2 linked regions of the Homo sapiens genome follow. The protein of the gene in region 2 interacts with the protein of the main gene of each other region in a biochemical or structural test. Each region holds a gene or a part of one and is shown on either strand. Other genes may lie near its edges. The genes, in order: CLK1 and PHF3.

Evidence for each region.
Region 1: of the proteins of PHF3 (region 2) and CLK1, one has a biochemical effect on the other in vitro, tested with the Homo sapiens proteins (one large-scale study listed by BioGRID).

What each region holds. Positions count from the first base shown.
Region 1 is NC_000002.12:200,854,591-200,858,417, forward strand, and holds part of CLK1 (dual specificity protein kinase CLK1), read right to left. Parts: intron 3,500-3,827; coding exon 3,383-3,499; intron 3,295-3,382; coding exon 3,128-3,294; intron 2,396-3,127; coding exon 2,301-2,395; intron 2,222-2,300; coding exon 2,092-2,221; intron 497-2,091; coding exon 414-496; intron 106-413; coding exon 26-105; intron 1-25. UniProt on the Homo sapiens protein: Dual specificity kinase acting on both serine/threonine and tyrosine-containing substrates.
Region 2 is NC_000006.12:63,712,145-63,715,971, reverse strand, and holds part of PHF3 (PHD finger protein 3), read right to left. Parts: coding exon 2,264-3,827; 3' UTR 1-2,263.

The sequences.
Region 1 (3,827 bases), on a different chromosome or scaffold from region 2:
GATGTCACTAACTCTTAAAACGTACCTGGTTTTCTGTATCATATGTTTTGGTAGAGGTCCAAGAATCCTTTCCATCATTGCTAAATGCTCCTTACTATCGTGTGTCTAGAAATAAAATAAAAACAGACTTGGGGAAGATGACCACCAAAACAGACACAGTTAAAGCTGACAGCAAAAAAACTAACATTAAGGCTTGCAGAACAAACTCGCCAATGATTCCCTACATGGACACGGATAATTGCTTATATACTGAAAGATGTTTTAAATAAAACAATTATGAAAGAAATATGAATTAGTTTATTTATGCTTATCTACAATTAATAGTCTATAATGGGGGAAGCAAAAGTATTTATTCATATAAACAGGCACCTTTCTTGTGCAAAGCAAGGTTGAAATAGATCATTGTCACTTACTGGAAATACGGTAAACCCAAGATAGTATTCAATAAGAATGCATCCTATGCTCCAGACATCACATGGTTGGGACCACCCTAGGGCTGCAAAGCAAAGCAAAATTTAAGGAAAAAAAATACTCAATGTTTGTTAAAGAAATTAAAAAGTTAGTTAACACTAATACTTTAAAAAAAAAAACACATGTAATGTAGGCTGGGCACAGTGGCTCACACCTGTAATCCCAGCACTTTGGGAGGCCAAGATGGGAGAACTGCTTGAGCTCAGGAGTTCAAGACCAGCCTGGGCAACACAGCGAGATCCCACCTCTATTAAGATATATATATATCTGAATTGGCCGGGCACAGTGGCTCACGCTACAGGCATAATCCCAGCCCTTTGGGAGGCTGAGGCAGGTGGAACACGAGGGCAGGAGATCAAGACCATCCTGACTACACGGTGAAACTCCGTCTCTACTAAAAATACAAAAACAAAATTAGCCAGGCATGGTGGCAGGCACCTGTAGTCCCAGCTACTCAGGAGGCTGAGGTGGGACAATGGAGTGAACCCCATAGGCGGAGCTTGCGGTGAGCCGAGATCGCGCCACTGCACTCTAGCCTGGGTGACAGAGCAAGACTCCGCCCCCCCCCCAAAAAATTATATATATACACATATATATGCAATGTGATGTTTGAGCTGGAAGATCCTAAAGCAATCACTTAATCCAAGGTTAAATACAATATATATGGCCGGGCGCAGTGGCTTATGCCTGTAATCCCAGCACTTTGCAAAGCCAAGGCAGGCAGATTGCTCCAGGTCAGCAGTTTGAGACCAGCCTGCCAACATGGTAAAAACCCCATCTCTACCAAAAATAAGAAAATTAACCGGGTGTGGTGGTGGGTGCCTATAATCCCAGCTACTCAGGAGGCTGAGGCAGGAGAATTGCTTGAACCCAGGAGGCAGAAGTTGCAGTGAGCCAAGATTGCACCACTGCACTCCAGCCTGGGCGACAGAGTAAGTCTCCGTCTAAAAAATAAATAAATGATAAAAATAAATAAATTATATAGTGTTATATATAGTCTGGAATAAAATAGGCATTAAACAATTTTCTGAGATGGAGTCTCGCTCTGTCGCCCAGGCCGGAGTGCAGTGGCGCAATCTTGGCTCACTGCAACCTCCGCCTCCCGGTGTTCAAGCAATTCTGCCTCAGCCTCCTGAGTAGCTGGAACTACTGACGTGTACCACCACACCCAGCTAATTTTTTGTATTTTTAGTAGAGATGGGGTTTCACCATATTAGCCAGGATGGTCTCGATTTCCTGACCATGTGGTCTGCCCGCCTTGGCCTCCCAAAGTGCTGGGATTACAGATGTGAGCCACCGCGCCCCACCCTTGGCCTCCCAAAGTGCTGAGATTACAGATGTGAGCCACCGCGCCCCACCTGGCATTAAACAATTACATTTAAAAACCCTACCACATATTACAAATGTGAAAACAATTCCAGAAAGGTTAAGCCACTTGCTCAAATTCCCAGAGCTAATTATCTGGTACAATTGAGAGCTTAAAATCCATAATGCACTTCATGATACTTATCCCTTAAAGAGAATATGATAAAGCCCCACAAGTAAGACCTAAAACTGCTAAAAAAATTTTAAGTCTCAATAAGGAAATACAAAGGTTCTCAAAGGACAATTAATACTCACCTAAAATAACTTCAGGTGCTCTATAATGTCTTGTAGATACCAATGTACTGTGATGTTCGTCATCATATGTTGCACTACCAAAGTCTACAACTTTAATATCTGGATTTATTAAGGTGCGTTCATCACGTTTCTGAAAATCATAAATGATGGTTAAGAAGGCATAAGCTATTAAGGCATAAGATACTTTATGAATATTTTGGAAGACTTACTATTTTGGGATTATACGCCTCTGTGTAGTCAGACTGCACAAATAAGATGTTTTCAGGCTTTAAGTCTGTGTGAGTCAACTTATTACTGTGCAAAACTGAGAATAAAGAGAAAGTTGCTGTAATCAGAAAACACCAAACCAAACCAAATCACAAAACCCCACAACAGGCCGGGTGCAGTGGCTCACGCCTGTAATCACCTGAGGTCAGGAGTTCGAGACCAGCCTGACCAATATGGTGAAACCCTGTCTCTACCAAAATTACAAAAATTGGCCGGGTGTGGTGGCGTGTGCCTGTAGTCCTAGCTACTCGGGAGGCTGAGGCAGGAGAATCACTTGAACTGGGGAGGCAGAGTTTGCAGTGAGTGAAGACTGCGCCACTGCACTTCAGCCTGAACAACAAAGCGAGACTCCATTTCAAAAAACAAAAAAACCCAACAAAAAACCTCTGATTCCTTTCCCAAAGAATGGTCAACATTCCAGTCTGCTAGAAAATCACCAGTAACTAAAACTTACTACCTCTTATGAAGCTTTCTTTTATGAGATATATCACGCCTTAATTTTTACCCAGCATTCGAAGTTACTATTTTTGCGCATCAGAAAAGTCTAAATCATAGTCTGCAACAAAGTACGTTGTTATATGGTGGATATCCTACTTGCTGAATGAAATGTACACTGCTGGATCAACAGCCTGTAATCAAATCTCTTCATACCTATTCTTCCTCCCCCTTTATTTTTAATCAAATAAAAATTGTACACACTTAGGATGCACATTTTGATATGTGGAATGGATAAAACCAGCAAATTAACGAAGATATACCAAGAACTTACAATTCACAGACTTGCATATCTGATATGCCATCTTTCTGATATGATCCAGTCGAAATGGTAGAAAACCATTTTCTTTAATGAAGTCGTAAGTACTAAGTCCCAATAGTTCAAAAACAATGCAAATGTGACCATGATGCTCAAACCATTCCAACATCTGGACACAGCGGCTACAAACACATGAAAAATAGCTAAGTATAGTTGCTCCTAATTTAAATATACCTGATACCACTTCCCAAGTTCTAATCTGATACTTACAAAGTACTGTTGGGGTCTGTTGTATTCAGATGTTCCAGAACTTGTATTTCTGAGCGAGCAGCTTCACAGTATCTATCCACATTTTTAACTATTTTTACTGCTACATGTCTACCTCCCCTGTTAGAAAGATGCATGCAAATTTAAGAATGACAGACATGATGCTCAATTCCAGGTATTACTGTCTTCAAACTGTACTACTACTCTGACCCACTGTATTTTTTTAATTTATGGTTTAGTGTTCAGTTCTGATTCTATTACATGCTGAATGACACAAATTTCTTTCATCAAACCACCACTCACATGAGTTATTTTTTGGTATTTCAGCTAAACAACTTCTTCCTATATGGTACCTGTCACTGTCAAACATTATCTCAAATGTTCTTTTAGTCCAGGTTGCCAAAAGAGTTAGGATACAGTGGGGAAAGAGTAAAGAGCTCTAGGACCG
Region 2 (3,827 bases):
TGTAAAACTTTTTTTAAAGAGCAGGTTTTTTCTTAAAACAGGAGAAACTGAAAGATGAAATTCATGTAATTCACTAGTTTGTGTAAGGCTGGTTGTACCTGGGACTGAGAATGGCTTTGGATCTACTACTCATTGAAAAATCTGCTCATTTTCCCTTTTTTTCCTCAAAAGGAAAACCTCAAATAGCTAATATGACCATACCTTCCCTATTCTCCATAAAATGTTTCAGTCAATCAGCGGTTACAAGATCTGCCTCTAACCCCTGGAGATGCTCATCCCTAATAGAAAGCTATATGGGCCTTGCCTATTTTAAAAACATGTATCAAGATTCGATCAGAACTGATTAAAGAATTTTAGATATGTAGAAAAAACTATTAGCGAAGAGGTGATCAAAAACTGACCTAAAAGCTTGTTTTCATTCATTAACCCACTCGTTTTTACTTTCATCTTGCAAAAGAAATCTGGAGTCTGATATTCCCTCAACCAGATATATCAGTAAAGGTAGATTTATTGACGATATACACATTTGAAATTGAAATGTTTTTAAAATGTGTAAAACCCTGACAGCAATTTCTTTGTAATGGTGCAAATTATAACTTAGATTTTGTTTTGTTTGGGAACTAACTTTGTTTTCTAACAAGTTAATTTCCAAAAGAAAAGTGGACCAAAGTTAAACGGGCTTTATTTAAACACAAGTTCTCTGTTTTAGAACCTTATGATAGTAAGTTTCACAGGATAAGGATAGGGAAAAAAGTACTGCAAGTCATTGCAAATTAAATAGAATGTTTGGTTCTGAATTTCCTCCCTTCTCTCCAGCAAAAATAACAAGGATAATTCTGTTTCAAAACCAATTTTTAACTCTAATCTTTAAGCTCTTTAGGAAAACAATCAATTTTGTGGAATTATTTATATTTTTCTTCATTAATACAGGTAAGTAAATAATAGAGTTCTCTTTCTTTTGTATTTTGGAAGGTTTTTCTTTTGTCAGCATCATTTGATAGCTCTTACTTTAAATTACAGCCATCAAAACCATGTGTTTTAGGGTTTAAATAAATTTAGATTTGAATTAACAATAGTTTTCATATTTTTTTTTCAAGTAAAACTGGCATATGAAACTGTACAGTTACTTTACGAATTAGGCTAAATCGCACATTTTATAAAAGGATTCAAAACATATTTCTCTTCAAGTTCTGCGGTCTTTAATTTTAATGATTAGTGAGTCAGAGTACCAAATTGCGATGGTGTAAAAGTTTTCAGAAACTTACCTATAAAGTGGGCTATAGCTGCACAGTGTTTCACAGGTAGTTCTAAATTCTAGCCTCTTTAGAACTACACAATTCATCTCAGCCTACAATTTAAGATTTTAAAAAAATTGTTTTTCCCCTCATCTAATGCCTGACATAGATAGCTATTTCTATATGTTCTTGGCTGAGTAACAAAAAATCAATGTCTGAAGGTAATTAAAGCTTTAAAGAAGAAATTCTTTTACTACTGAATTTCAAGTCACACACACAAAATAGGTGAGAAATTATTTTATCATATTTAGAATCAAAATATCCCTTAAAATATTTACATTTTACAGTAAAAAGGATAGCAAAACACAAGATCATGTACAAGCTTAAGTATTCAAGTTTCTGAAGAGCCAAAAATGAAAATGAAAATAATGGCCTACCACAAAGCTGTAGTATATGGTAATAAATGACTTCAATGAGTGCAGATTAAAGCAATAAATGTACCCCTTGGGCTTCTGATTCTTGGTCAAAAACTGCTCAACTAAATGATTAGCATAATCTGATTATGAAGTTGCTTGGATTTTTGTTGCTCCTCTACAGTTTCTTTAAAAACAGTGCAATTTAAAACAAACTTACAGAGCACACATTACTCCCAAATTAGTCATTATATAAAGGACATTCACTAGAGGAAGTAAATATATTCCATAGTTAACCATATTTACCAATTAAGGAATAAAACTAAAATTTCTAAGCCTTTATTGCATATTAATAAAACAAATCTTTGAATATACAGCAATGTAAAACTTTTAAAAATATTAAATTCCTATAACTAGGGACCGTTGGTATGAAGAAGGGATGATGAGCACTGGTACAGAGCACTCTGTACCAACACACAGAATTTACTGTTCTGCAAATGACCAATAGTAAAAATTTTAAAGATGGCACAATCCTAGCAGGCAATCTTTCTTTTGTTTACAAGATACAACATTTTAACAGTTATTTAAATGTAATCCTGAAGCAGCCTGCAAATTTTACCTTTTGCTTTTAGTTCTGTCAGTGTGGTCCCTATCTTTGTGGTACCTATCCCTGTCCTTTTCTCCTTCTCTGTGTTTACTTTTCTCTCGTTCTTTGTCCTTCTCATAGTCTTCACTTTTAGGTTTATCTGGCTTCTTGTCTACATTCCTACTATCTCTGCTTGCTTTTCCATCTGTTCCTCGATCACCATGTGATAACCGTGCCCTCTCTTTATCTTTGTGCCCTTCCTCCCTGCTTTTTCTGTCTCTGTCCTTGTCTTGGCTTCTGTCTCTGCGTCTATGCCTTTCAGATTCTTGCTCCCATTCCTTTTCATGTCGCTCTCTTTTCAAATGGTGTGAATCACTATAAAATCTCTGGCGGTCCCCTTTACCCCTATTAAATGGCCTATCCAGTTGCTGTTGGTCTTGCCTACCCCAAGGGTCACTATGGCGCCTTTCTGGCCTCCGAATGTCTTTAACCTGGTAAAAATTCTGCGGGCCTATATACCTTGATGCTTGTGAGAGAGGACCCATCATACGCTGTGGCTGACCTGGGAGATGAACAACAGGTGGCCAGGGAACCATGGGATTTTGAGCAAAGCCAAAGCCTGGAGGGGGAAGTAATGGAGGTGGCAAATGTGGTGGAAATCCAAACATGCTTTGTGGGGGAAAATTAGGAGGCCCTGGAAATGGAAATCCAGGTGGGCTAGACTTGAGATGCTGAAGGTTGGGCTGCTGTGGCCTCATGGGTGAAAAGTTTGTACTTGTTCTGGGGCTGGTGCTTCTGGAAGTAAAGGTGATGCTTTTAGAAGGAAATTCTGATGGACATGTGTTTCCAACTTCAAAATGAGATGTCGCTACTGCTGATCCTCTTCGAAATGGGTGCACAGTTTCAATATTTTGCATTAAAATATCCTCCTGTAAGGGTTTTGCTTGTTCTGCTTGAGAAGTCTGTATGTTTTCTACTGATGGTGAGTTTTGTGCAACTTTTAAATTGTCACTCTGCTGAACACACGAGTTTTTCTCTGCAGAACACAACTTTTCCTCTACATTGATTTGTTCTGTTAAGTGCTCCTTGTTGTGTGACAGGCCAGGCAGCATGTGTTTTTCTCCATTCCGGCAACTATCTCCATCTTTGCTTTCTGAAGTAGTTACAGGCTGACTTCGTCCTGCTGCTTGCCTAGGATCCCTTTTCAGGTTGATAAACTGTGGAGACCTCGCTGTATTAGCAACAAGGTTTTCACTACAGCTCACATTACCATCTATGTTTCCTTTTCCTACATTAGATCTGCATGGAGAACTATTTGAAGTCTGGTTATCTTGCAAATTATTCTCTTGATCTTCCTGAAGCTGTCTTTTTAATGTTTTCTCTTTACTCTCCACAGTTTCCTCTTGTTTTGACTGAATTGATAAATTTGTTAAAAATGCTTCTGTAGAAACATCTGGTGGCTTACCTCTGAGACTAAGACTCGTCAAAGACCCTGCAGAAATGGAAGAGGACCCTACTACTGATGTTTCTATTTCTGCTGACTTATCTGTAGATTCTGAAATATTATCTACTTTAACTTTTATCTCCTTGTTT